4 linked regions of the Homo sapiens genome follow. The main gene of each other region encodes a partner of the protein of the gene in region 3 in a complex. Links are inferred from orthologs where the notes say so. Each region holds a gene or a part of one and is shown on either strand. Other genes may lie near its edges.

Region 1 (7,385 bases), on a different chromosome or scaffold from region 3:
AAAAAAAGAGAAAAGAAAAGAAAAGGAAGAGACGCCAGGGACTGCTCTCTCTCTCTCTCCCTACCATGTGAAGACACATAAAAAGGGCAGCCATCTACAAGCCAAGAAGAAAGTCCTCACCAGAATCCAACTATGCTGGCAACCTCACCTTGAACTTCTGGCCTCCAGAACTGTAAGAAATAAATTTCTGTTGTTTAAGCCACCCAGTCTATGGTATTTTGTTATGGTAGCTTGAACAAAGACACAGTATCTATGAAGATTAATGCAATCCAGTATAAATGGAAAGTATCTACCAAACAGTAGCTGTCACTATTTGTTTGAATGCAAAACTCACATTACTTTAGTGAAACTTCACTTTTGCAGAGGACCAAGGAAAACACGATCATGCTCTTCTGTAATTCTGGAGTAGGGAAAAGATTAAGACTGAGATTGAATTGAAAAGCAAAGGCAATGGATGGTGCAGAAAGATGGAACAGACATACTTTTCTCAATCTCTCCCAATAAATACAGCTAAGTACAAGTCAAAGACAACTCCTTTCTCTGACTCTAACAGCACCTTCTTTGATATAATTATAATTATAGTCACTCCACTTTGTTAGTGACTATCTTGCAAGATGTTAGCAGTGCTTCACAAACAGCAAGTGCTCTGAAAATAGTCAATAAATGAATAAATTAACTGTCTGCTTCAGTCAGATTCATAGCTCTCCTGTTTCCTTCTCCCCTTCATACCCAATATTCTTAATCTCAGCTCCAGACTTTGTTCAGGCTGGGTGTGGTGGCTCATGCCTATAATCCCAGCACTTTGAAAGGGCAAGGCAGGAAGATTGCTTGAGGCCAGGAGTTTAAGACCAGCCTGGGCAACACAGCAAGACCCCAACTCTACAAAAAAAAAAAAAATTTAAACTTACACAGACATAGTGGCTTGCACCTATTGTCCTAGACCCTCGGAAGGCTGAGGTGGGAGGACTCCTTGGGTCCAGGAGTCCAAGGCTGCAGTGAGCTATGATCATGCTACTGCATTCTAGCCTGGACGATAAGAGTGAGACGCTGTCACCAAAAAGGAAAAAGAGGACTTTTCCTCATCCTGCTCCCACCATGAGAAAACCTTCTCTTCAGTTTTCTTTCTATTTATTTATTTATTTTTTGAGACAGAGTTTCGCTCTGTCGCCCAAACTGGAGTGCAGTGGCATGATCTCGGCTCACCTCAACCTCTGCTTCCTGGGTTCAAGGGATTCTCCTGCCTCAGCCTCCCGAGTAGCTGGGATTACAGGTGTGTGCCAGGACACACCAATTATGTTATTTATTTACTTATTTATTTATTTATTTATTTATTGTATTTTTAGTAGAGAGAGGGTTTCGCTATGTTGACCAGGCTGGTCTCAAACACCCGACCTCAAGTGATCCGCCCGCCTTGGCCTCCCAAAGTGCTGGGATTACAGGCATAAGCCACTGTGCCAGGGCCTCTCTTCAGTTTTCTATCTGCCCACATCTTACCCATATGCTAAAGTCTGAATGTTTGTGTCACCCAAAATGTATATGTTGAAATCCTAACTTCCAAGGTGATGGTATTAGGAGGTGGGGCCTCTTGGGAGGTGATGAGGCCCACTTTCATGAATAAGATTAGTGCCCTTTTAAAAGATGCTCCAGATAGCTGCTTTGCCATTCCACCATGTGAGGACACAGCAAGAAGCCACCTATGAACCAGGAAACAGGCCCCGGAACTGTGAGAAATAAATTTCTGTTGTTCATAAGCTACCTAGTTTATGGCATTTCCGTTACAGAAGCCCACATTGACTAAGATACCATCTTTCATGGCTTGGTTTAAGTGGTTCTCAACCAAGAAGGATTTTACCCCTCTCGCAAGGGGACATTTAGCAGTATCTGTAGACTTTGTGGTTGGCATCTAGCGGGCAGAGGCCAGGGATGCTCTTAAGCATCCTACAAAACACAGGACAGCCCTCACCCTGACCCCACAGCAAAAAATTATCTGGCCTAAAATGTCAATAGTGCATCAGTTGAGAATAACTGGTTTAAATCAATCTCTCTTGGATCCCTCCCCAGGTAATAACACTGATCTTTTTCTTCCCGGTACCTATGATCTCCAAGAAAGTTTAGAACAAGTTGTGCATTTCCTGAGTTTTTTCTCTGCATGTTATTTATAGACAATATGTTGACTTCCTTTAAATCCATGGGAGCCTTGTACAAGTCAGCCAGAGCTGCCTCTCCTTTTTCAACATGCAAGGATAATCCCTTCTCTCTGAATCCTTCTCATACAATTGCTTTTCCCTCCCTCATGCTACCATTATCCCTATCACATGCACATGTACACAACACACTCCTATTATGAAACTCATCACAACTATTTGCTCACATGTCTGCAGCTTCTTTAAACTGACACCTCCTTAAACTAGAACCCTGACATATTCTATTGCATATAAAGCAATTCCTCACACAAAATAGGGGACCAATAAAGATTTGGCCAGTTACAAAAATAACAACAGACATCATCATTTCTCGGTCACCTACAGAATGCCATAAACTGGTGTCCCGGCACTTTATTCTCCTTATCGCTAATTCTCACTGCAATCTACATAACTGAAGAGGAAATTGAGGTCCAGAGAGTTTATTCAAACGACCTTCCCGTGGCCTTACTTTTAAAGTCAGTTCAAACAAAATCTATTTGGATCAAAAATTCGTAATCTTGCCCCTACACACTTGAGGCGAAAGGATGGAGAGATGGCGTCTCGGACAGGAGGGTAAACTGTCCCAGACTCACTACCGTGGCGTGAAAAGTTCCACAACCATAATCCGGGTAGACGGACCCCCGGCTCGGAGTCCCCGTGGAGTGTCCCTGAGGGTGGCGAAACTCCTGCCACCCTCCCCATTGCCGTCCCCCGCTTCTTCCCTACCTGGTAGTCCAAGCTGTCTCCGTCTGGTGGCACCCCAATTTCCCCTGCCTAGACCCACCTCCTTTCCTCAGCCCCCTTCGCCTGCCGCTGAAAAGTGAGAGCGGGCTCTTGCGTCATCAGCCGTCGCCGGCGAGTGGTCACATGATGCCCCTCCCTGCTCCCAGCCGCTTCGGTCATGTGACCGCCTGGGGAGTCAGGGGCGGAAGTCGGGGTCTGACCCGCTCCAGGTCCGGGACTGCGGATAGAAGAGGACCGCCGCCTTGAGGGAGGGGTGGAAACTGGGTGCCGGCTCCGCGCGCGACCTCCGGCCCTGCGCGTGCGCCGTGGCGCGGCCCGGCTGACAGGTGAGTGGGGATGGAGTGAGCGCGCCCCATTTTTGCATGGCCCCCTTCCCCTCCCCGCTGGGCCGCGCTGGCCACGGGGAGGTCTGCAGAGTCGCGTGCAGCCTGGATGGGGGACTCGGGATGGAGGGCTTAGGGGCTTTCTGGGGCGGGGGCTGTAATCCAGCTCTTCGTCTCCGCTTAGGGGGAAATCATTTTGCACACCCCTTCCTCGCTTTAGGAAGCACCGTTCAGCTGCTTGGTCCGAATCTCATCCTTCCAAGTTTCCGGGAACACTGCTGTATGGATGTCGTCGTTATTTCTCTTTGCTTTTGAGAAAACTGAAAGGCTAGTAGTGAGGACTTTTACAGGCTGACAGACGTGGATTTGCATTCTAGTTATGCCATGGGCTGTGAGTTTGGGCAAGTCATTGCTGCTCGCCGCGCCTTAATGCCTTCACCTGTGACATACTGATGTCAAAATCCTTTGCATTTGGGGGAAAAAAAAAAAGTTCCCAGGGCCCTGATTCCTGGGATCGGAATCAGGATTATGATCGGACAGGAGAAAGAAAAAAAGTCACAGAGCCATAAAACTGGGTCTCCTGATTGCAAGCGCATGGAGCTCCCTCAAACATAGGTGAGGCGTAGTGAGGGCGAAGTTTTACTGTCTTTGTGCACTACAAGGGACACCTTCTCTAATTGTCCTTCACCTGCCTTTCCCAGGATTTCAGGTTCAGCCTCATTTCAGAACTTTTCTGGAAAATATATGCAGCTTGCATTTATCTTGATCAGCAACCGTTATATTTTGTTTGTGATAATGGATTTGTGGAGACCAGTGCTTCCTTTATGGAACTGAGGTTTTGCGAAAGGCTAAAAATAGACCTGCCTTCTTTTGTCCTCTGAAGAGGGTAAACTGTTTGTCCACGACAATTCGATTTCCTTAAGAAATATTATTCTGTACTCAGGGTAATTGGTGTAAGGATGTCATGCCTTATTCTTGAAAGCATGTCTTTTGATTAGGATTACTTCCCAAACTGAAAATCACAGTTCCACGCCAAATTATTAAAAATGAAGTTACCGGCACTTGTAAAAGAAAATAAGAAAATATAGTGGGATCTCTGGATTTCATGCCAATAATAATATAGCCTGTATTGAGAAAACTGATCTTCAAGTGTTCTTGATCCCTAGCACCAAGAGAACCTCTGAAAGGATAATTTAACATAGCTTCTTCTACAGTGTTTATTTGGACCTAATTCTAAAGTGGTTTTTTAAGACTTAGCTGAGTCTTAACACTTTGTAAAGCCATCCACCTACCTCTTAGCTGCAACTTGATTAGGCATTTTTAATGATGGTTCTTAGATTCTGTTCTTCAGGACTAGTCCTTCAGCCAACGAGGGGGCTATTTACCAAATACTCTAGCCAAATTATATTTGTACAAATTATGGAAATTCCATTTGTTACATGGAAAATATAACTAGTCCGGGTTAGGAGGTCTAGTACATAAAATGTAACTAAGTGATTTCCTTCTTTCAGCTAATCTTGTTTTAACTTCTTCCATCTTCAAAAACTTAGCAGGAGATGCTTGCATTATTAGAAATAGAAAACACAAGTGCCCTTCATGGGGCAAAACAGATTACAAGCAGTGAGTTCATTTCAGTAAAAGTATATTAAATATAACTCATATGCTTTTGCATTAAAAATTTAATATAAAGTTTATATATAGAATTTTAGAAAGGTGATTTACCTAGGTAATAAAGACCCATAATATTTGTTTTACTATTGCCGAACATATTTGGTTATTATTATCCTCCTCATGTTCTTTTAAAGTTGTCTACAGCGTAATTCTTGAGTAAGGGACTAAGGATTAAAACAAGAGATTGACACACGAAAGTCTTGATCTCTGTCGTTATCCCAGACTGAAGCTTCCCCGAATGTGTGCATGCAGGTGCTGAGTCTGTCTGTCCTTCTGTATGTTGGGAGAGAGTAGAGTAAAGGGCAAGTAATGTTACTTTGCTTTAAGTTGTTTTTCCCAGGGCCACATTGTTGCCCTGTCATGGTATCCCAAATCGGGTAGCCATTGGACCTGTTAATCATAGCTTGTCCTCCTCTTCATGAGTCTAGAGCAAGCTTGTGTAGCCTGAGGCCTGCAGGCCACATGCGGCCCAGAATGGCTTTGAATGTGCCCCAATACAAATTTGTAAACTTGCTTAAAACATTATGAGATTTTTTTGCGATTTTTTTTAAGGTCATCAGCTATTTTTGGTGTTAGTGTATTTTATGTGTGGCTCAAGACAATTCTTCTTCCAATATTGCCCAGGGAAGCCAAAAGATTGGACACTCCTGGTGTAAAGTTTCATCCTACTTAGACCTTCTGGGTTAGTTTGGTGGTCTTCAGAGGGCTTTAGTATGTGACTGTTTTGCCCACTGTCCATTATTTCCCCTTTCCCTCTCTGCTTTCCCAAGCCAGACCATATCCATGCAGAAAATGAAATGAAATTATCTGAAATTCAGCCTGTTAGAGATCAGTGTGGTTTAACAAGCAAGTATCACAGAGGAAACTAAAAGAACTTGTTAATAATGTATGCCTTAATGTGTATTACAGGGTACCTTCATGGGAGTTCTAGACAGCTGTAGTGGCTTCTTGGCTCTCAGATCCAATCCAGTCTACTTCTTCTGTTTCCGCCCCTAGCTGACTCTGCTCCAGCCACTTTAGCCACCTTGCTAGCCATCTAGCACATTCCTGCCCTGGGGCCTTTGCACTTACTTGTAACCTCTGCTTGGGATGCCATTATTAGGATCATTATCTATTGCTGCATAATAAACTATGCCAGAACCCAGTGGCTTAAGACAATAAGCTTTATAGCATCTATGGTCCGGAGGGTAGGGCATAGCTGGCTGCCTTTGGCTCTGGGGCTTTTAGAACATTGCAGTCAGGCTGGGAACAAGGAGCTATGGTCTTATCTGAAGGCTGGACTGGGATTATAAGGGATCTACTTTCAAGTTCACTCAGGTGGTTTTTGGCAAGCCTCAGTTCCTTGTCATATGGGCTTCTCCCCAGGGCTCTCTCACACCATGATATGTTGCTTCCCCTGGACTAGCAAGCTACAGAGGGTGCCCAAGCCAGAAGTTAGTCTTTTCGAAATCTAATCTCAGAAGTGCACTGTATCTTTTGTTTCTATCCTATTTCCTTCCCCCCCTCCCCCTTTTTTTTTTTTGAGATGAAGTCTCACTCTGTCACCCAGGCTGGAGTGCAGTGGTGCAATCTCGGTTCACTGCAACCTCCGCCTCCTGGGTTTAAGCAATTCTCCTGCCTCAGCCTCCCGAGTAGCTGGGATTACAGGTTTTTGCCACCATGCCTGGCTAATTTTTGTATTTTTAGTAGAGCCGGGGTGATCCCGGCTCTCCTAACCTCAGGTGATCCATGTGCCTCAGCCTCTCAAAGTGCTGGAATTACAGGAGTGAGTCACCACACCTGGCCCTATTCTCCTCTTTAGGAGGGAGTCAGTAAGTCAGCTTATACTCAAGGGAAGGAACCTACATAGAACATGAATACCAGGAGGCAGAGATCATTAGGGACCACTTTAGAAAGCTGCTGACCATACCCAGATATCCATACTGCTTGCTCTCTCATTTCCTTCTGACTTCTGCCCGAGGTGCTCTATGGAAACTAGCATATGCCCCATCCTTTATTATGTTTTTTCTTCACGGCACTTATCACAGCCTAATATATAAAGCTCATTTTCACAAATTTCAAGATACATTTGTAATCAAAACTTTTTCTTCTCCTTTTTATGAAACATTTTTCTGTATTTTGTAATCACTCTAGCATTTTTCAGATATGAACTATTCTTAATAGCAAGAATCTCCTATACTTGACATGTGAGAAAATTTTTTTTTTTTTTTTTTTTTGAGAGAGGGTCTCATTGTCACCCAGGCAAGAGTGCAGTGGCACGATCATGGCTCACTGCAGCCTCAACCTCCAGGGCTCAAGCAATCCTCCCACCTCAGCCTCCCTTGTCACTGGGACTACAGGCTCGCACCACCATACCTGACTGATATTCTTTTGATTTTTAGTAGAGACAAGGTCTCGCTATTGTTGCCCAGACTGGTCTTGAACTCTTGAGCTCAAGCATTCCTCCTACCTTGGCCTTCTAAAG
Region 2 (7,022 bases), on a different chromosome or scaffold from region 3:
ACTTTGCAGGCCGGATGCAAAGAGAAGAAAGAGAAGGTAGCTGGAAGTGCAGAGGTTGGTGAGATGCTGTTTATTTTAATGAGGGGATTTTGAGTTTTAGGCATGAGGTAGAGAAAGATGCGCTTAGAGAATTAGCAAGGAAATAAGATGGGTAGTTAGAGAATGTAAATGGCCTGGAAGAGAGTAGTGAGTGAACCAAGTCAAATGGAGTTGGGAGTGGAGGAAGACACTTGGAGGCTGAAGGAATAACATGTGCAAATACTTCAGAGCAATAAGGAATTATAGTCACAAAACTGAAAGAAGTACATTATAGGTAGAATTTAGAGGTCTAAGGAGAGAATAGGGAAAGGAGATAAAAAGTAGAAAAAGATGAAACTCGGCTGTGATGGGTTTTTCCTTAATTTTTCTTTTTTAACAAGTGACATCAGATTTACAATTCTACCAGCATCACTTGGTGATTGATTGGATGATGGAGTGGTGGTTTGGGTGGAGTCAAAAGAGATGAAAGAACCAAAGAGGATGCAAAACTAATGCCTAGGTTTCTGATTTGGTCAATGGCATGAATGATAATACCATTCACTAAGAGACCACAAGAGTGGTTTTGGATGGGAAAGATGGTGGATTTCGTTTTAAATGTGTTAAGTTTAAGATGACTGTTATGGGACATTCAAATAGCGTTATTGAGGTGACCATTGCATATAGAGGTCATCTGGACTGCTTTCAGCATGTAGATAGTATGCAAAGACTTGGAGAAAAAAAGGAATCATTGAGGCCATAGAGAATACATGAGATACCTCGTGAAGTATATGGAATGATAAGAGGGTGGGTCTTTACCAATAGCTCTTTCAGAGGGAGCTCAGAGGAAAGGAAACTCATGATAAGGGAATTCCCAATAAATACATCGTAGAATCAGAAGATTGATTTTAAACAGTGCAGACACTTGATCTGGGTAGCTAAAGGCAAGAAAAATCCCCCGCCTACCCCCGCCAAAAAAAAAAAAATTGCAGAGGCTTTGTTTTTGGCAACTGTCCCTATTTGTAATATCGATGCGTATTTTATAGGCCAGAAATTCTCATGCTTTTCCCTGTTCTGTTTTCTTAAATACCAGTTTCATCGTTTTAGTATAACATTTACACAGAGATTTCACAACAGGAAATCCAAGTGGGGCTTCATGTGTTGAGCGTAAGAAGTTCCATGTCAGGTAATTTCCTACATGTCTGAAGTTCCCAAACTAGTTTTATTGTAACCATAATAAAGGGCTCTTTTGAAACCCAGCTGCTAGCAGAACAAAACAGCTAAAAAGATAAAGTAGTAGATGCTGTGTAGAGGTGTGGGATTAGCAAACCTGCCAGAAAATACGTCTTTGCCACCTGTATTTTTATTACCACCCGACATTTCAAAATCATTAATTTCTTAAAATATTAATGTGTGTGCTTGGTTATTTATATACTTAGCAGATGAATAGCAGGCTAAGCATTTATTCATGAGGAATTAGTTGGCAGCTACCTGAGAGCTAACTGAAATGCTGTGGACAAAGGACACTTTATGGGTTCAAATTCAGAGTATTCAAAGGCGAGTTAAAAGAATGTCTGAGTCAGAGTTTGCTTCACATTTTGTCATAACTGTCCCTAGCAACTAATAAAGATTAGATGCTAACTATAATTAGAGTGCTAGTCAGCTTTCAACTTTTGTTTTGTAGGGCAGTGTCTCTCTATGATGCCTAGGCTGGCTTTGACCTCCTAGGCTCAAGTAGTACCCTGGCCTCAGGCTCCCTGGTAGCTGGGACTATAGGCACATACCATGGTGCCTGGCTTGGAAAATAATTTTTAAAAGTTAATAAAATGAAACCTTTGGGTTGAGATATATCTTCAGTTTTGTAATTAAAAATCTGCTTAGATTGTTTGAAATATTAAAATATGAATAACCATTAAGCATTATAATTTAAAAGAAATATGAATGTAAAATTCACAGATTCAAGGTAAGCCGTGGCGTCTCCTATAAAATTTGTTTTAAAGTTATTTTGTGTAGTATCTTTGATATAGTGTCCAGTGTTTTGTAATTATTAAAAAAGAACAAGGTATCAAACTTCACTTTCTTCAGCAGACTTTTGAAAAAAGTATATGAAATTATATTCTTTAGTTATGCATTACTGCCTTTTCATTTCTTCTATTGGTATTCTTTCTAAAGTTGTTTATTAAAAACCTATAAAAAAACATTAAATTTGTAAGGTTAGCTAGTTTTTAAAGGAATTTGAGGAAGCTCATAGATAATGTAAAGCAAGGAAAAGTGGTTTTGTATCTCTCCTTAATAATTTCATCTCTTTATAATTCAGAACATATGATATTTGTGAAGTATCTCCTGGACCCCACTTGAATATGATCGTTGGAGCCAATGGAACAGGGAAGTCGAGCATTGTGTGTGCCATTTGCCTTGGTTTAGCTGGAAAACCTGCTTTCATGGGACGAGCAGATAAGGTGAGTTAATATAATTACTTTTTAAGAAATTTCAAACCTATTAATTGCTTTTAGTAACATCAATTTCTACACCTCAGTTCCTTGGGTATAGCAAACTTAATAGTGCATGAATACAAGGAATAAATTTGGCAGGTAGAGAAGCTAGAAGGAGATTTTCATTTCTAGAAGTATTTTGGATCATAATACTAGAGGATTCTTCAAGTCTCTTACACCTAAAATGCTAGAAATAATGTAATATGTCTTTTTTTTTAAATGCATCACTTGGCTTGTGGAACAGTGAAGTAAACTTACAAAGGGCAGAAACAAAATCCAGTCATATGTTGCTTAATGATGGGAATATATTCTGAGAAAATGCATCATTAGACAATTTTGTCATTGTGTGAACATAATAGAGAATATTTACACCTAGATGGGTTAGCCTACTATCCACTTAGGCTATATGGTGTAGCCTATTGCTCCTAGACTACACTCCTGTAGAGCATGTTACTGTACTGAATACTGTGGACAATTGTAACACAATGGCCTACACTGTACTTATGTAAACATCTCTAAATATAGAAAAGGTACAGTAAAAATACAGTGTAAAAGATAAAAATGGTACACCTGCGTAGGGCACTTAACCATATTCATGAGAGTGGGGGGCGGAAAAATACTGCCCGAACAATCCAGAGGGAGTCTTGAGAAAGGAGGAGGAGGAGGAGATAAGAAACAGATACAAAAAATGAGATCATTAAAAATGACAAAATATTGGCTGGGTGCGGTAGCTCATGCCTGTAATCCCAGCACTTTGGGAGGCCATGATCAGGAGTTCCAGACCAGCCTGGTCAACATGGTGAAACCCCGTCTCTACTAAAACTGCAAAAATTAGCCAGGCATGGTGGCGGGTGCCTGTAATCCCAGCTACTAGGGAGGCTGAAGCAGGAGAATTGCTTGAATCCAGGAGGCGGAGGTTATAGTGAGCCAAGATCGCACCATTGCACTCCAGCCTGGGCAACAAGAGTGAGACTCTGTCTCAAGAAAAATAAATAAAATAAAAATCACAAAATAAGATGGTAGAAATATGTGCAGATATAATCACAATGATTATAAATGATCTAAACTCTAAACTCTCATTAAATTATAAAGTCTGTTAGAATGGAGAAATGAAACAATGTTTAGTTCTCTTTTGTTTTTAATAAGCATATCTAAAATAAAGTGCTACAGAAAAGTTGAGAGTGAAAGGATGAAAAAAAATACATGCCAGGCAAATATGCAAAAGAAAGTAGATGTAGCTGCATTAATACTAGGAAAAACAGACTTTAGAGCAAAAAGTATTTTATAGATAATAGTGGTCATTAAACACTGACGAAAGTTTTAATTCACTGGAAGATAATTCGATTCCCAACTCAAATTCACATTATAATCTAGCTCCAAAATATATAGGCAAAATCTGCAGAATGCTAACAAGCAGTTAACATATCCATAATCATACTGGGAGAGCTATCAATAATAGTAGACCAGTCAGATAAAAAAATTAGACTACAAAAGATTTGAACAATGAAGTTAAGCTTGAACTAATGGACATATTATAAAAAGTGCACTCAACAACTGGAGAGTATGCATTCTTTTCAAGCACAAGTTAACATTTCTAAAAGTTAATTGTATACTGAGTCATAAAGCAAGTATCAAAAAATTTCAAAAAATGGACACCACGTAGACCATATCCTATTTCTATTAAGATAGAAATAATAAAAAAAAAATTAAAAGTTAATGGATGGTTACAAAATGGAAGCAAATTCCCCTTAAGATTATAAATTATTTAAAATGTGTGTGTGTGTGTTTAGTGCTATATGGAAGACATTTATCAGGTAGAAGATACTTTTCTCTGTTAATAACTAGCCTTGTGACCTTGAGCAATTATCTGGACTTCAGTTTTTCTTCATTTCAAAGATGAGAGAGTTGGAACAGATAGCATCCAAGGACCAACTCAGATTTTTATGAATATTGATATATAGTTTTTTAATTGTCAGATCATTTAATCCCTATCTCTTTGTAATCGTCTGTTGGATTGTACTCCAGGGGCTGTACAGTAGGACTGAATTGGCTATAACAATTTTTACTAACTTTCTCATGTTGATTTTTGTCATGAAAACACATCTCATCCTTGAGTGATAGGATTTTTAAGGGAGGCTGTGGAGTGCAGTGTTTCCTAGATGACAGATTGCAGCCCTTTGGGTACACAGATGTATTTATGGGATGCCCAAGTTCTCAGCAAGAATATTTAATGTATTTTTGTTTAAATGCTAATATAAAAATTTAACAAAAACATACTCTACACCATCTGTATGGATACTTTATAATAAGAACTGCCTCCTGATTTTTGTTTCCTCCTCATTGGTACCAAGTCTTTTAATTCTTGCAAGCTAATGAGCAGATGTCATTCCTACATGGATGTCCTTGGTTTTCCTGTGAGGAAACAGAGAGGTTAAGTAACTGTCCAATGTTTAACAACTTGTATGTGGTGGAGTTGAGATTTGAACCTAGATAGTAGATGTTAAAACCTGTACTTTTAAGCATTAGGCTGTACTTGGTGGTTACAAGATAAGGCTTTTTTTTTTTTTTTTCTCCCATCTTTCTGGGACTCAGCTTTATTGTCTATAAAATGAATGTATACTTCAAGGTTGCTTATGAGTATTAAATGAGAAAAATACATGTTTAGTGCTTAGCACAACAGTATATAGTAAATGCTTGATAAATGTTAGCTGTTGTCATCACTGTCATTATCACTATTAAAAAGATTACTATTTGTGAGGTATATTTTCTACCTTTTTTAATATTTATCACTTATTTATAGCCTGATTTAAGATCCAGTCTGATTTTTTTAGGCTCAGACTTTGTTTTCGGACTTAGACTCATAAGCATATAGAAACTAGCACAGATATGTCTGCTTTATCATGTAAATTTCAATTATATTGCTCCTTTTAGAACGATGCTTGGTGGCAATTATATCATTAACAGGATAGGTAATATTAGCGTGGTTGTTAATATTTAACCTGCGCGACTGTAGGAAGTCTTCAATGGTAATAAGAAGCTTTGAGTGCTTAGTGGTTATACTATAGGACCTGTTTTCCCACAGGCATTTTCTCTTCTGTCTGGGTGTTTAATATAGTGGACAAGTACACAGGCTCTGGAGCCAAGATTTCCTGGGTTCAGATCGTTTTTCTGGCACTTACTGGCTTTGTCACGAGGTTGGTAAGAGGCTATGGAGTGCATAGGAGTTCGATAAATCTTACCTAATATTATTATTGTTGTTATTTGTGGGAGGGAACAATGGAGGAACCCAGATCTGGGAGAGATACCTTAGAAAGTGACAGGAGCGAACATACAAGTGGTACCTGAAAAAAATCTTGATTTGACAAATAATAATGACTGCTAAATCTCTGATTGTTAACCTGGGAATGTCACTACACAGCTCACTTTTTCTTTTTTATGTCTTAGGTTGGGTTTTTTGTGAAGAGAGGATGTTCTAGAGGCATGGTTGAAATTGAATTGTAAGTGTTAAAAGTGCTAAAACTCCTTTTTCCTATAAAATTCTTAGTTTATATTCATGTTTTCCTGATGATTAGAAAAGAGTATTAATATAGTATTATGGCATAAATATTGGAAATAATATTTAAAGAATACTTAATCCAGATAAGTAAGGGGTTTAAAAAATATATTTTAAAAACTTAAATTGTAGGCTAGCCATGGTGGCTCATGCCTGTAATCTGAGCACTTTGGGGAGGCCGAGGTGGGCAGATCACCTGAGATCAGGAGTTGGAGACCAGCCTGACCAACATGAGGAAGCCCCGTCTCTACTAAAAATAGAAAAATTATCCAGGCATGGTGGCACATGCCTGTAATCCCAGCTACTGGGGAGTCTGAGGCAGGAGAATTGCTGGAACCTGGGAGGCAAAGGTTGCAGTGAGCCGAGATGGCGCCACTGCACTCCAGCCTGGGAGACAGAGCTAGACTCTGCCCATGCCCCCTGCCCCCCCCAAAAAAAAAACTTGTGAGAATTTTATTTTAAAAAATTATCAAGGAAATGATAAGTTTATAGCAGGTAATGAAATAGAACTATACTACTATTAAGTAGTCATGATGAAGTTGCAATATTTTTCACAAATTTAAAGTATCTGGGTTTTTTTTTTTTTGCTGATCTTGAAAGTAATACTTGCTTGTCTTTAAAAAACGCAAACAATGTAGAAGTGTATAATGTTGAAAATAAAAGCCTTCTTGCCATCATTCCTAATTCTATAAATAACTACTGCTAATAGTTTGATGAATCTCATGTATGACAAGGACTTGGTACTTCTGTCACCATTTTTTATTTTCTCCCTTATGACACCAATAATTCATCATAGTATTCTTTTCCCTTGAGCTTGGATATTCTCAATTGGCCATTCTTGGCAGCTATTTTTGATAGACTAGAGTTGATGTTTATGATGAAACCAGTTGACCATCCTTGGTATATATAATTTTAATCCTTTACACATAAATATGCACATTATTTAGGTGATTTTTAGAGAC
Region 3 (7,357 bases):
TCTCTTCTCTTCTCTAGGTTAACAGTAATCCTGTCGCTATACACCTTTGACCCCATCCCTTTTTGTCTGTTTTTTTTTTGGTGTTTTTTTTTTTTTTTTTAAGACAGAGTCTTGCTCTGTTGCCCAGGCTGGGGTGCACTGGCACAGTCTCGGCTCACTGCAACCTCCACCTCCTGGGTTCAAGACATTCTCCTGCCTCAGCGTCCAGAGTAGCTGGGACTACAGGTGTGCGCCACTACGCCCGGCTAATTTTTTGTATTTTTAGTAGAGATGGGGTCTCACTATGTTGGCCAGGCTAGTCTCAAATTCTTTTTTTTTTTTTTTTTGAGATGGAATCTCACTCTGTCACCCAGGCTGGAGTACAGTGGCTCGATCTCAGCTCACAGCAACCTCTGCCTCCTGGGTTTAAGTGATTCTTCTGCCTCAGCCTCCCAAGTAGCTGGGCCTACAGGCACGCACCACCATGCCCAGCTAATTTTTGTATTTTTAGTAGAGACAGGGTGTTACCATATTGGCCAGGCTGGTCTCGAACTCCTGACCTCATGATCCACCCGCCTCGGCCTGCCAAAGTGCTGGGATTACAGACGTGAGCCACCGCACCCGGCTGCCTGTTTTTATTTTATGGATTATTATCTCTGCTCCTATGTCTTCAAGTCTTCCCTTCTGAAGCCATACTTCCCAAAAGAGCAGTCAGCATTCCCTCTCCACTTCCTCAACTTCCACTCTTCACTCTTGGAGTTCGATCTGGCTTCCTCCCCTCTCTATTAAGATGGCCTTTGTTGGCCATCAAATTCTAAATCAGTGGCGCATCTTACTCGACCTCTCCAGAGCATTGACGATTCTGACCACACCCTCCTTCTCAAAAGTCTGTATTCCTATGTGCCTCTGATGCCACTTTCACAGCATGTGGTTCATGAATGTCACCTATAGATTCTTGAGAATTTCTTGAAGCTTCCTTTGTGGCCCAGTAATCAATTTCTGTAAATGTTCCAAGCATGTTTGAAAAGAATAGATATACCCAAGTTCTTTTTCTAAAATACAAACCTTCTCTCATTTCTTCCTGGTCTTCCATCACTTCTATGGTCTTCAAGTGAAAGACCAACCCCCTCAGTCTTGAATCTTTCTTTTCTTTCTACCTTTTTTTCTTGACGCTTTGATCTTGAAATGCTGGTGTTCCCAGCGTTTTCTATTCTTTTATCTCTCCACACACCAGGGAAGCACATGCTTCACAAAAGGGGACGGTCTCTCCCAAGTTCTGAACAAGTGCTGCCATGGGGGAAGGCTGGCCCACTGTCGTCAGACTTCCCCACTTTTCCAGAGCAGTCAGCTACAGTAGGGTTTTATGTGAAATGTCCCAAGTTTATTTATTTATTTTTGAGACAGAGTCTGGCTCTGTCACACAGGCTGGAGTGCAGTGATGCAATCTCAGCTCACTGCAACCTCTTCCTCCTTGGCTCAAGCTGTCCTCCCACCTCAGCCTCTTGAGTAGCTGGGACCACAGGTGTTCACCACCATGCCTGGCTAATTTTTGCGTGTGTGTGTGTGTGTGTGTGTGTGTGCGCGCGCGCGTATATATTTTTTTTGTAGAGATGGGGGCCTCACCATGTTGGCCATGGCTGATCTCAAACTTCTGAGCTCAAGCCATCCTCCCAGCTGGGCCTCCCAAAGTGTTGGAATTACAGGAATGAGCCATCATGCCCAGTCAAAGATTGAAAACCCCAACTTTAAATATTGATAATGAATAGAAAATTTCACAAAACCATGTAGGGCAAACAAAACACAAATATTACTCCTTAGGGCTTTATTTCCCCTCTTATTTGACTACCTATTAGGCAGTTTATAAAGAACTTATTAGTGGTGTTAGTTCACACTTATTGAGGGCTTACAATGTGCCAGAGACACTCTTCTAAGTAGTTTACGTTTACTCTTCCTTTAATCTTCAGAATAACATTATCAACAAAGTGTTATTATTAAACCTGCTTTATAGATGAGCAAACTGAAGCTGAAAACTTGAGCTCAGTCATCCCTTAGTATCTGTGAGGGATTGGTACCTTAGTCCCCATGGATACCAAAATTCTCGATGCTCAAGTCCCTTATGTAAAATCAAAACCACCTTTGTAAAAAGCATAACTGAGAAAATTATGATAGTGAAAGAGATCTGGCCTGACTCCATCTTGCTTCTAACTTCCAAGCTGTCCTTGATCATTCCTGGACATAGGTGGAATTAATGTTGGAAAGAACTTAGTTTATAGTTTAACTTTGAAACAAAGGCAATAATAGCCCTTTCCCAAAACAAATCCCCTCCTTGCCTAGGAACGGGTCTGCCTTTGTAGACTAACAAATTAGCTAAAAGATTAGAAATTATGGTTTAGGAGGTCACGCAAGCTGGAGGCTACAAGATTCTGACCCTCCCCAGATTGCTTCCGGGAGTAACATCACTGTTCTAAAACCTAAAATCAGTGCTTGAGATATTTTGCAGAACCCGTGTTCTAATGCACCAGCTGACGCCACCCAGCCCTGTAATCTGGCTAATCTGGTCCTATGGTCCTAACCCAGGATCTGACTCAGTGCAAGAGGACAGCTTTGACTCCTTTCCTCTCTGATCCAACCTATCAACACTCTCTAATCCCCAGCACCTCCAGCCACCAAATTATCCTTGAAAACCCTGAATTTCCAGGGAGACTGATTTGAGTAATAATAAAACTGTGGTCTCCTGTTCAGCCAGCTCTGTGTGAATTAAACTTTCTCTATTGCAATTCCCCTGTCTTGATAAATTGGTTCTGTCTAGGAAGCAGGCAAGGAGAACCATTGGGTGCTTACAAAATGCGAGAATACTTGCATTTAACCTACACAAATCCTCCAGTATATTGAAAATCATCTTTAAATTACTTACAATACTTAATACAATGTAAATGCTATATAAGTAATTGCTATGCTGTATTGCTTTCGGAATCTGTATTATTTTTATTGTTGAACTGTTATTTTTTACTGTTTTCCCCCACAAATATTAACCACCCACAGTTGCTTCAATCCGTAGATGGGGAACCTGTAAACATGGACAGCTGACTGTACTTTGTCCTATGTCTCAGAGACACTGAGTTTAAGGCCCAGGATTCCATGTTGACCATCCAGCTCCAAAGCTGAAGCTTTTAATCACCACACACCACTGCTTTCCCACTTAGCAGATGAAACTGAAGCCCAGAGAGGTTAAGAGGTTGTCCAAGATCACAGGGGTGGTGAGTGACCAAGCCTGGATTTGATCTATCCTCACAGAGACAGATATTTGCAGGTACTGCTGTTCTATATTAGTTACCTGTTTCCCTTGCTAGGCTGCATCCCTAGCTCTCAGACCAGGGATAGAATTCAAACGTTTGGAAAATTAACGCCTTGAAGACTCAAAGCAGTCCATTCACTTCCACGAGTAATTTCACTTGCTTTCTCACAATCCCTAGGTAAGATAACAGTTAACATATAATCAGCACTCCCATGTGACACTTTTCAATGGCCATGCTAAGCACCTGATATAGGTGTTATTATCTCTTGTAAATCTCACCAACACTATTTTGCAAGAACTAATATCCTCATTTAATGGAAGAGGAAACTGAGGCTCAGTGACTTGCCCAAGCGCCTGCCAACTAGTAAGTGGCAGAGCCAGGATTCTAGATCAGGCTCTATGACCACAGAGTCCACATTTTTCTTTTCTTTTTTTTTGAGCTCTGTCACCCAGGCTCGAGTGCTGTGGTACGATCTGGCTCACTGCAACCTCTGCCTCTCGGGTTCAAGTGATTCTCCTGCCTCAGCCTCCCGGGTAGCTGGGATTACAGGCACACACCACCACGCCCGGCTACTTTTTGTATTTTTAGTAGGGACGGGGGTTTCACCATGTTGGCCAAGCTGGTCTCGAACTCCTGACCTCAAGTGATCGGCCCGCCTTGGTCTCCCAAAGTGCTGGGATTACTTACAGGCGTGAGCCACCGCGACCGGACCAGAGTCCACATTTTTGACGTCGAGGCCACACTCAGTTCCACAGATGGGGAAACTGAGGCCCGGGGCAGGGCACTACATTGTGCCAGCGGAATGGTGGCCATTGAGGGAAGCCCAGGCTGCACGCCAATTCTTCCTCCTTGGTCAGGGAAGTCACTGAGGTGCAGGAGGCGGAGGGCGACAAGTGGAAGCCCCTTCCCATTATTAAGGATCGAGAGCGGGCGTAATTTGGGATCTAACCCACGAGGCGGAACCACCAGGGCAATGGCGCAAACGGAGAACCGGAAGTGCGTCACTCAACGGACGGGCGAATAAGCCGCAGGCCACCAATGGGAACGCCGCGTTCGCGTTCGCCCCGCCTCAAAGGAAGAAGAGTCCACCTTGCGACCGTATCCGCTAGCGCGGCCTGGGATGCGCTTGGGCTCCCTGGTGGGTAACGTGGGGAGCTAGGGGTTGGAGGGGAAAGAAGAGGGACTTCAAGGAAGGCGAGGGGAGGACGGAAGGTGGGGTGGGCGAGACAGGCAGTGGGGTCCGGCCCCGGGGTCGGTCCCCGTGGGCTGTGGAACTCGGGGACTGGGGTCTTGGGGTTTCCCCCTTCTTGATGGGGAAACTGAGGCCCAGACAGGGGCCGCAGAAAACAGCGGACTGGGATGTCCTCCCGCAACACACACGCAGACATCTAAAAATCTTACTATTTAGTGAAAAATATTTTTAATCGTAATTACGATTTAACAGGTAAAGATACTTTTCATTGTAACAGGTGAAAAAGCAAAATATAAAATTCGATTCAAACTGTGATTACATCTATGGAAAATACAGCCTTTGCCGACCACCCTCTTTGTCCCGCCGCCCTCCGTGCTCCCCTCTGTTTTGTGTACGGAGTTTCTTACTTTGTACAAGTCCGCAGCCGCTTATGTTACAGCCCCGAGGCCAGATGCGTTTAAAATCGAGGAGTTCTCGGAGTTTGGAAAGGTAAAGTCCCTATGTTCTATGTTAGGTTTCACCCTCAGAGGGGGCTGGAGCAGCGGCTTGTAATCAAATACACGACCCTTTCCACAGCTAAAGTTATGAAGATACGCATATATTACATTGACCTGGTCGCGGTGGCCCACGGCTATAATTCCAGCACTTTGGGAAGCTGAGGGGGGCGGATCACCTGAGGTTCGGAGTTCGAAACCAGCCTGGCTAATATGGTGAAACCCTGTCTCTACTAAAAATACAAAAAATTAGCCGGGCGTGGTGGTGCGTGCCTGTAATCCCAGCTACTCGGGAGGCTGAGACGGAAGGCTGAGGCAGGAGAATCGCTTGAACCCGGGAGGCGGAGGTTGCAGTGAATCAAGATCGTGCCACTTCACTCCAGCTTGGGCAACAAGAGCGAAACTCCGTCTCAAAAAAAAAAATGCATATATTTACACTGTTGGGATAAATAACCATAAATAGCCTCACCTTAAGTCAGGTCAAGTTTTCCAACTTAAACAAGTTTTGGTATTCAGACTTTTTTTTTTTTTTCCCCTGCATCCGATCATCCACTAGTATTCATACCTTTTTAGATTTGAGGGTTGCAGATGAGGGACCTGGATTGTAGTTGTTCTGTTCACTCACTTTTCTCACTCTCGCTGGATAGAGAGTGTCCTTGAAAACAGGAACTGTGCTGTTGTATGGTCACGTCTATCTCTGCCACCAACTCTTGTGTGTCACCTTGTGCCCTCTTAGTCTCAGTTTCCTCATCTGTAAGATGGGGTCAGTGACCCTTTGCTCATAAGGTTGTTCTGGTTTGGGTTAAATGAGGTCGGGCATGTGAAGCACTAGAATTGTGTTAGCACCCGCACGAATGGTATGACTGAGATTTACTTATTCCACAAACATTTCTATTTTAAAATTATTAAATTTAAATAAATTGATTTAATTAATGCATTTAATTAATTTAATAATAAATTTAAACGTATAGATGTATTTCTTAAAATGTGGGTGATAGGAATTTTAAAGATTTATATAATGCTTCAAAAGCCTTCGAAAAGGTTTTTTTAATTGGTTTATCTGTATATATGAACTCTTGAAACTTATGGCTAAAACACTAGGATTTATCTGCAAGGTTGCAGAGAGATAATTCTGCCTTAAATTGGCTAAAACAAAAACAAAACCAGCCAACCTATATTATACATGGGATTAAAACCAATTTTTCTCCCATTTTTTTTCTCCTTTTTTCTTTTGCTGCCCACATTATGCCTTATTTTATGAGCCCCAGTTTTCTGGGCTTAGTTAAAAAAAATTCAGTTCTAAACATTGAATTTAGGGAGTTTTTGTTCTTGAATAAAAAGGCATATACTTAGAAAAAAAATCTGTTTATCCGGGAAAATATATTGAAATCATGCTGCTGAGCCTCTATTTTCTTTGATGTTTTGGTTCTGTATTATTTTATCATAACTTTTTAGCATTTAAAAATTTACTGATGTACATTTAAAGCCAATAAACTGTTTTAATTAATTTTTTTAAAAAAAGTAATTTTTTTTTTCTTTTTGTGACAGAGTCTCGCCCTGTCGCCCAGGCTAGAGTGCAGTGACGCGATCTTGGCTCACTGCAACCTCCACCTCCTGGGTTCAAGCGATTCTCCTGCCTTAGCCTTCTGAGTAGCTGGGATTACAGGCGTGCACCACCACGCCTGGCTGATTTTTGTATAAAATAAAATTATTTAAGTAGGTAATACATGTCTATGCTAATCCCACCATTCTCCCTACAGTCTCTTCTCATAGAGACAAGGGACATAATATGCATAAACAAGCTTATGGTTGTCTTTCTTCCACTCCTACTTTTCCCACTCCTTTTCCACCAAATTATAGCATTCAATCCTATCCTGTTCTCATTCTCATTTACATTTATTTTGGCTGTTATTTAACATATTCACATTATTTTGTTGTTGTTGTTGTTGTTGAGAGTGGATCTTGCTATGTTGCCCAGGCTGGTCTTAAACTCCTGGCCTCAAGCAGTCCTCCCGCCTTGACCTCCCAAAGTATTGAGATTACAGGTGTGAATCACCATGCCCAGCCCATCACATTTAAAAACATTGTATGTAACATACCTATACAATTGTGTGGAAGTGTAAGTTTGAAGAACAAAAATAAAATGAACACTCATGTACCTGCCACCAAGTTAAGAAATAGACATTTTCAGATTGCCAGACCCTCCACTGAATCCTTTCTTCCCTCCTCAAAGATAACCACCGCCCTGAATATTGTGTTACTTGTTGCCTTGTTTTGCTTTGTAGTTTTTACCATGTATGTGTGTATTTCTAATGAATGAATGTATGCTTTTGCTGAGTTTTCGATTTTATGTAATAGGATCCTAAAATATATTTTGTGTGACTTGCTTGTTGCAC
Region 4 (7,672 bases), on a different chromosome or scaffold from region 3:
AGGTTTCTAATGTTAGTTCATCTGATCCCAAAGCCCTTACTTTTTCAAGGACACCATGTCTATGTTTGCTCTGAATCAGTATACAGTTAAAAGCCCACTCTCTGGAGGCAGATTGGCTGTGTTCAGATCTCACACCTACCACTTACTCGCTATAGAGCCTCAAAACTTAATAATCTTCTCCTGTGACAGTTTATTTGTGAGAAGAGAAACATAATAAATGCACATGCCTGATAGGTTTGTTGTGGGGATTAAATGAAGTCATACCTGTAAACCACCTGGAATAAGGTCTGACCCACCATTCACTTTGTATAGTAGTCCCCCCTTGTCTGTGGAGGATGTGTTCCAAGACCCTCAGTGGATACCTGAAATCGTGGACAGCACCAAACCCTAAATCCACAATGTTTTTCCCTATGCATAGATACATACTGTATTAGTCAGGGTTCTCTAGAGGGACAGAATTAATAGAATAGATGTATATATGAAAGGGAGTTTACTAGAGTATTGACTCACATGATCACAAGGTGAAGCCCCACAATAGGCCATCTGCAAGCTGAGGAGCAAGGAAGCCAGTCTGAGTTCCAAAACCTCAAAAGTAGGGAATCCAATAGTGCAGCCTTCAGTCTGTGGCTGAAGACCCTTGAACCCCTGGCAAACCACTAGTGTAAGTCCAAGAATCCAAAAGCTGAAGAACTTGGAGTCTGACTTTCAAGGGAAGGAGGCATCCAGCATGAGAGAAAGATGAAGACCAGAAGACTCAGCAAGTCAAGTCCTTCCACGTTCTTCTGCCTGCTTTTATTCTAGCCGCACTGGCAGCTGATTAGATGGTGCCCACCCAGATTGAACGTGGGTCTGCCTCTCCTAGTCCACTTACTGAAATGTTAATCTCCTTTGGCAACACCCTCACTGACACACCCAGGAACAATACTTTGCTTCCTTCAATCAAGTTGACACTCCACATTAATCATCACACGAACCTATGATAAAATTTAATTTACGCCAGGAGCGGTGGCTCACACCTGTAATCCTAACACTTTGGGAGGCTGAGGTGGATGGATCACTTGAGGTCAGGAGTTCGAGACCAGCCTGGCTAACATGGTGAAACCCCATCTCTATTAAAAATACAAAAAAAGCCAGACGTGGTGGTACACACCTGTAATCCTAGCTACTCGGGAGGCTGAGATGTGAGGATCTCTTGAACCCAGGAGGCGGAGGTTGCAGTGAGCCAAGATCGTGACACTGCACTCCAGCCTGGGCGACAGAGCGCAACTCCATCTCAAAAAAAAAAAAAAAAAGTTTAATTTATAAATTAGTCATAATAGAGATTAACAATAATTGATGAGAAAAATGAAATCTTAAGCCCTCCAGCTGACTGAACAGACCCCCTCTTGGCCAAGGGGACCCCGAATAACCTTGGAAACCCTCACCCGCTCTAAATGCCATTAGGCTTTCTTCCCTAAGAGCTAAACAGAAATCAGCCCTTTCAAAAGACTCCACTGCTGGTATAAACCAACCACCTGATGCTGCCCCTCCCTTTTGCAGTTTTGGCACAATTGACCAGCAGTTCTTCCTGGTAAAAGACCACCAACCATGGAGTAGTTCTGGCCAGTCTATGGAAGACATGCAGTCAGGGTTTTCATGTCCTCTACTTCACCTTTTGATGTCAGAGGGCTGAAAACTCCTACCCTGGATCATGCTAACACTGCCAATTTTGGAATATGGGTCCCAGGGAGAGACATGAAGTGCAATTGCGCATATGCACATTTCTCCTTGCATAAATGTTCATGACTCCTCCTATAGCTTATTAAATATGTATATTTGGCCACCCCATTCTGCATAGATTCCTGCTCCCTTTGCCCTCCCTTGAAGTGTCTGTTTCTGGCTTCTAGCATGAGGTTGTCTTCCTAGCCTGTTGGAATGGCCGCCCCGCAGACTGCAACCCTTTATGAGAAATAAAGCTCTTTCCAAATTTATGAACCTCGTCATCCTTCAGTTGACACTAACAATAAAGTAGAACAAATATAGTGTAATAAGTTATATTGTGGTTTCTCTTTGAAAATATCCTAATATTTTCGGACTGTGGTTGACTGCAGGTAACTGAAACCACAGAAAGTAAAACTGCAGACATGGAGATGGAGCAGCAACTACTATAATCATTGGCTGTTGTCGGTTATATTTATTGTTACTAATGTTAGTATTGTTATCACCACAGTTTCTCCCCAGACATCCATGGCTTCCAGTATCAATCCAAGGTGGAATGTGGGTCTGGATGACTTCTCCATGCAGGGCCTAAAACTTCATTCTAATACTCTTATTTTATGTCTGCATTTTCTCACCTGCATTCTTCTGGAAAGAGTGTAGAGAGATGTTTTGAGACTTAAAAACTGGTATCTCTTCTCCTCTATCTTGAGTAATGACAGTCTGCTATCTAGGTAAGCGTGCTGCTGGAGGACACTGCTGATTTTCACAGTGACAGGGGTAGTCTGACTGGTGGGCTGCTTGGTAACGTACATGAATACCTTAGCAAGAAAGAGCACTGAAAAACCAGCCCAACTGTTGACAATAGCTTTTATCTAATTTTCCACTTTCCCCTTATATCTCGGTCACTGAACTTTTTTGACTCAAGGCACTGTAGCAGGACGAGCCGCAGACAAAATCTCTCAGACACCGAGTTGCACAAGGAAGGGCTTTATTCAGCTGGGAGCATCGGCAAGCTACTGCCTTAAAATCCGAGCTCCCCAAATGCACAATTTCTGTCCCTTTAAAGAGCTCACAACACTAAAGATTTTACATGAAAGGGTCGTGATTGATCAGAGCAAGCAGGCGGTATGTGACAGGGGCTACATGCACCGGTGGTCAGAGAGAAACAGAACAGGGCAGTTCTGTTCTTTATACAATGTTCTTCTATACAATGTCTGGAATCTATGAATAACATCGGTTTCTAAGTTATGAGTTGATTTTTAACTACTGGGTTTAGGCCAGGCAGGCCCAGGCCTGGTTTTGGGCCTGGCGCTGGGCTGCCTGTATTTGGTTTTACTTCCTTGTTGTTTTTTCTTAAAACAGGTACTGAGTATAAAACAATATAAAACAATATGAGACGGTCTCTCTATTCCCTCAATACAACATCCACATCCTGCAGTAGGGACCTTTTGCAGAATTCTAGATGGCAGGAAGCTTCTATGAACCTAAGTCCAGATTTTAATTTGCAAGGAAACTGAAGCAGATGAATTTTCTCATTGTAAAAAAATGAATGCCTTGATAATATATTTGTTTTTCATAGTAGGCCTTTGTCATTAAAATTGATGCCTGAGGATATAGTTGCATCTTGTGTGGAACAGTAAGTTATTACTCATTGCATACCAGATTTTAGCATACTTGCATTAGTTCATGGAATATGATTTTACATTTACTATTGCAGTTCCAGTGCCATTATCAGATTGCATTTTCCTACTGAATTACAAACAAAAGTGTTATGCTACTAACAATTAACAAAATTTTAATAAGGTTGTGTTTGATGCTATTACTCAGATAATGTGTTCTAAATTGCTTTCCTTTGAATATATTTGCATTAAAGAGGAACTCAATTTGGTTCTTTGAAGAGTTTATCCACTTTCTGGGTAGCTTTAAAAAGACACAGGGAAATTCAGTTTCTTCTTTGCAAGTAAATAGAGAAGAAACAAATTTGCTAAGATCTGTAGAAGTCATGGCAGCAGACTGCTGATGGTTTGAGTTAATGAAATGACTCATTTTGGCTACTTGAGTTGCACAATTAAAATATACAGTAGAGACTGTATATCACATCATAGATGAGAGATAAATCCCCCAGTGTTCTCTTTTTTTTCCTCAAAGCTAATATATTATGAATTAAGAAATTTAAGAGCTCCACATTATTGCAATTCTTGATCAGTGATGCCCCAAATTAAGTAGTAATCTCTTGAGAGTGCACGTTTGTTTGCAGCATTCCTCTTACCCATTTCTGCTAAAATTGTGGTTGTGACGAAAGCAGTTGTTTTCCAAAAGATAAACCCATGTGACCAAGCTAAAACATTTACCTAATACTGACACGTTTTTTGTGGTCTTCTCATAGTTGTCTAGCTAAAGGAGTTTAATGCAGAGAATATAAATACGGAAATAGTGAAACTGAAGTCCTGCTTGCGCAGAAAGCCTGCAGCCGACTTTGGTTTTTAACAGACTCCACGGGGCATTAGAGAAAGTAACTGGGGGCAGTGGGATGGAGGGTATGAAATTGGGTGGAGGGACGAAAACTAAGAGCCCTCTGGGTCTTTTATGTCCTTCTACATTTTGTGTAGAAATAAATGTTTTTACTTTACTTCCACGGTCGGCCCTTCCTCTTCACCTTTTTTTTTTCTCACACGTTCATCCTCTGAATTCTTTCCGTTTACAAATGCTCCCGATTTAGAAACTCATAATACTGTCTGTAAAACTTGCCTGAGCCTGTGTGGTCTGAATTTAGCGACACACTTGTTTAGGAGTTTCGGTTCTCGCTCTCTGTTTGCATGGTTTGGTAACAACACTTCACTATACTAAAAATCATCGCCCGGACCTGCAGGGCTGCACGGAAAACGCTGTTCCTTTTGGTACCCGCCGCAGCCGCGCAGGCGCACCGCCCAGCCGCCCTGACGCAAGGCGCAGGCTTCATGACGCAGCACGCAGTCTCAGCCGACACTGCGCGCGCCTCCAGGCACCGGCGTTAGCGGGTCGCCGACCCGCAATCCCCGCCGCGGCTGCTTGCCTACCGGAGTGTGCGCCGGCACCTGCCGCCGGAGACATGTTGCAAAAACCGAGGAACCGGGGCCGCTCTGGCGGCCAGGCCGAGAGGGACAGAGACTGGAGCCATAGCGGAAACCCCGGGGCTTCGCGGGCCGGGGAAGACGCCCGGGTTCTCAGAGACGGCTTTGCCGAGGAGGCCCCGAGCACGTCCCGCGGGCCGGGCGGCTCGCAGGGGTCGCAGGGCCCCTCGCCTCAGGGCGCCCGCCGGGCCCAGGCCGCCCCCGCCGTGGGGCCCAGGAGCCAGAAGCAGCTGGAGCTGAAAGTGTCCGAGCTGGTGCAGTTCTTGCTGATTAAAGACCAGAAGAAGATTCCGATCAAGCGGGCCGACATACTGAAGCACGTCATCGGGGACTACAAGGACATCTTCCCCGACCTCTTCAAACGGGCCGCCGAGCGCCTCCAGTACGTCTTCGGGTATAAGCTGGTGGAACTTGAACCCAAGAGCAACACTTACATCCTCATCAACACCCTGGAGCCTGTGGAGGAGGATGCCGAGATGAGGGGTGACCAAGGCACGCCCACTACGGGCCTCCTGATGATCGTCTTAGGGCTCATCTTTATGAAGGGCAACACCATCAAGGAAACTGAAGCCTGGGACTTTCTGCGGCGCTTAGGGGTCTACCCCACCAAGAAGCATTTAATTTTCGGAGATCCAAAGAAACTCATTACTGAGGACTTTGTGCGACAGCGTTACCTGGAATACCGGCGGATACCCCACACCGACCCCGTCGACTACGAATTCCAGTGGGGCCCGCGAACCAACCTGGAAACCAGCAAGATGAAAGTTCTTAAGTTTGTGGCCAAGGTCCATAATCAAGACCCCAAGGACTGGCCAGCGCAGTACTGTGAGGCTTTGGCAGATGAGGAGAACAGGGCCAGACCTCAGCCTAGTGGCCCAGCTCCATCCTCTTGAAAGGTGGATTCAGAGGGACCCCCGGGACAAGGGTCTGAGACCCAAAGGCACAGTTTAGAGGATTGGGGGAAGGGAGAACGAACCCAGGGAGCATATTGCTGTAAACGCTTCAATGTGTGTAGCTTTAGGATGTGTTTGCAAAGTTTTGTTTTTTTAATGTTGTGTTATTTTGCTCCAGATTTTCATCTATAAACAAAGGAGCATTTGTTTTGATTTTACTCTTTTTGGTATAAAAAATTTTGCTAGCTTAGTAAAACGAATTGGAAAACTTGACTATGATCTGGAACAGATAATGCAAGAAGGAACACATAAGTAAGTTGCTTTGGTGCCAAGAAAATAAAAAAGCTATTATCAGGTCTCCTAACTACCCCAGTTTGTAAGGAAAAATAAAAGTTTTTATAAAATTAAAAAAAATAATTGCCTATATCCTTATTATGTTAACCTATTTTATTTTTCTATATTTCGTACATATATAAGTATTATTCATGGTTCCAAGCAATGAGTGTAATGTATTTTCTCCCAATAGTAATTGTTTATATTCATAATTATTCAGCTCTGCTGCTAAACACGTAGTTCCACTTCGTTTTTTTCTTCTTGCTACTGTAGTTATTACAATAAATACTGTATTTTTGAAGCACTTAAGCATTGTGTGTTTTTTAAATCGTGGGTCATGAGAGAATTTCATGACTGGAAATCAACATCTTAAAGTTTTTGCTACATATTAAGGTCAATGCTGTTTTGTAGAAGTTGTTTCACTTTTGTGTGAAACAAAATCAGGATCATGAGGTGAAATATATTTCTCACTGTGGATCTCAAAAAGGCTTATAAAACAATAGCGTAACCATTAACCATGCCTGTTTGGGAATCGGACTGTCTGGGTTGAGATCCTGGCCCCACCATAACTAGTATATGAATTTACATAGGTTCCTTAGTTTGTATGCAGATGTTTCTTGACCTGTAAAATGGTTTTAGTCCGTGATGTGGAGAATTTTATTTGTTATTCTTTAATGTTTTTATTTTTTATTCTCCTTGGTCTGGAGCTGCCACTTTTTAAATATAACTTTTCTTTATCTTTTTTTCCAAATCATTCCTAGGAGAGCAATTCCTGGTTCAAAAGATAGTCCTCTAGTCTCACTCTATTGTATGGGGAAATATAACGTGTATGGTGAGTGTGCCCCACATAGAACATAAGAGCAGGACATAAGATCTACCTCCTAGGGAGTTAGGTATAGGGAAAAGGGTATGGGTCTTGGGGCTGTCTGGCAAACTGAATTTGAATTACGGCTCATGCTAACTTGTCAGCATGGTGGTTGTGGGGGTAGGTTTTAAGCTCTCTGAATCTCAATTTATCTGTAAAATGAGAAAAATAATAGCTATATAATAGTTTTATGCACTAAATGAACTAGAAGAGTTCATAGTCCCATTGTGTTCCTCCATTACGTGTAGCAGATGCTGTTTTTAATGCAGAGATTCAACACGTTTTATTCAGTGGGCAAATAAGTTAATTGTTTTAGGGGGAGGTGCTGCAAATTAACCTTGAAATAAGGCAAATATTTTTAACTCGGGGAAAAAAGTGAACTTCATCAACACTGGACGGAATGTCATTTAAAAGAGTCTATAGTGAGTATGGAGGAATGTGATAGGTTACTGGGTTTTATTTCATTCTGTTGAATTGGGATTTGCATTTGTTTCATCAGTGGAATATGTTTGGCCCTTACAGGCATTTCTTCTTGATCTGCATTTTATTTCAGTGTATAAACTCCTTCCTGCCTCCTGGTCCCCTTACCTCCCTGACTCAGCTTTCTCCTCCTCATGCCCTCTGATACTCGCATTCTCACCTGTATAATAAAAATTATTACCCAGCAGTCACCACCAGTTATATCTGAGGCAAAATTCCCCCCGCTTTTCTCAGAGGTGTTAGCAATTTACCATCGATAATCTTGTTTCAAATTTTAAAATATGAAACATCAG

The links.
Region 1: NSMCE1 (region 3) and NSMCE2 share a complex: the UniProt entries of both Homo sapiens proteins name them as parts of the SMC5-SMC6 complex.
Region 2: NSMCE1 (region 3) and SMC5 share a complex: the UniProt entries of both Homo sapiens proteins name them as parts of the SMC5-SMC6 complex.
Region 4: the proteins of NSMCE1 (region 3) and NSMCE3 are in contact, whole or in part, in a crystal structure (PDB 7DG2), measured with the Xenopus laevis proteins. The link is inferred for Homo sapiens from one-to-one orthologs. Residues at the interface, in NP_001083134.1 of Xenopus laevis: Ile5, Glu7, Gln10, Arg11, Leu13, Gln14, Ala15, Met17, Ser18, His19, Leu30, His33, Leu37, His38, Leu54, His57, Leu58, Pro60, Leu61, Phe62, Met63, Val84, Asn86, Ile88, Thr89, Met91, Ala92, Ser93, Asp94, Gln149; in XP_018121157.1 of Xenopus laevis: Gly57, Glu58, Val60, Gln61, Tyr62, Leu64, Ile65, Lys66, Gln68, Lys69, Val82, Thr100, Gln102, Gln103, Val104, Phe105, Gly106, Phe107, Asn123, Leu125, Gln126, Arg127, Val128, Gly130, Asp131, Gly132, Met133, Arg134, Asp136, Glu137.

The regions. Positions count from the first base shown.
Region 1 is NC_000008.11:125,087,483-125,094,867, reverse strand, and holds the start of NSMCE2 (E3 SUMO-protein ligase NSE2), read right to left. Parts: upstream 3,009-7,385; 5' UTR 2,910-3,008; intron 401-2,909; exon of another isoform or gene 335-400; intron 1-334. UniProt on the Homo sapiens protein: E3 SUMO-protein ligase component of the SMC5-SMC6 complex, a complex involved in DNA double-strand break repair by homologous recombination. Is not be required for the stability of the complex.
Region 2 is NC_000009.12:70,261,972-70,268,993, forward strand, and holds part of SMC5 (structural maintenance of chromosomes protein 5), read left to right. Parts: intron 1-2,332; coding exon 2,333-2,474; intron 2,475-5,951; coding exon 5,952-6,004; intron 6,005-6,647; exon of another isoform or gene 6,648-7,022. UniProt on the Homo sapiens protein: Core component of the SMC5-SMC6 complex, a complex involved in repair of DNA double-strand breaks by homologous recombination.
Region 3 is NC_000016.10:27,265,762-27,273,118, reverse strand, and holds the start of NSMCE1 (non-structural maintenance of chromosomes element 1 homolog), read left to right. Parts: upstream 1-4,346; 5' UTR 4,347-4,413; intron 4,414-4,744; exon of another isoform or gene 4,745-4,956; intron 4,957-7,357. UniProt on the Homo sapiens protein: RING-type zinc finger-containing E3 ubiquitin ligase that assembles with melanoma antigen protein (MAGE) to catalyze the direct transfer of ubiquitin from E2 ubiquitin-conjugating enzyme to a specific substrate.
Region 4 is NC_000015.10:29,266,820-29,274,491, reverse strand, and holds the start of NSMCE3 (non-structural maintenance of chromosomes element 3 homolog), read left to right. Parts: upstream 1-4,669; 5' UTR 4,670-4,786; coding exon 4,787-5,701; 3' UTR 5,702-7,672. UniProt on the Homo sapiens protein: Component of the SMC5-SMC6 complex, a complex involved in repair of DNA double-strand breaks by homologous recombination. The complex may promote sister chromatid homologous recombination by recruiting the SMC1-SMC3 cohesin complex to double-strand breaks.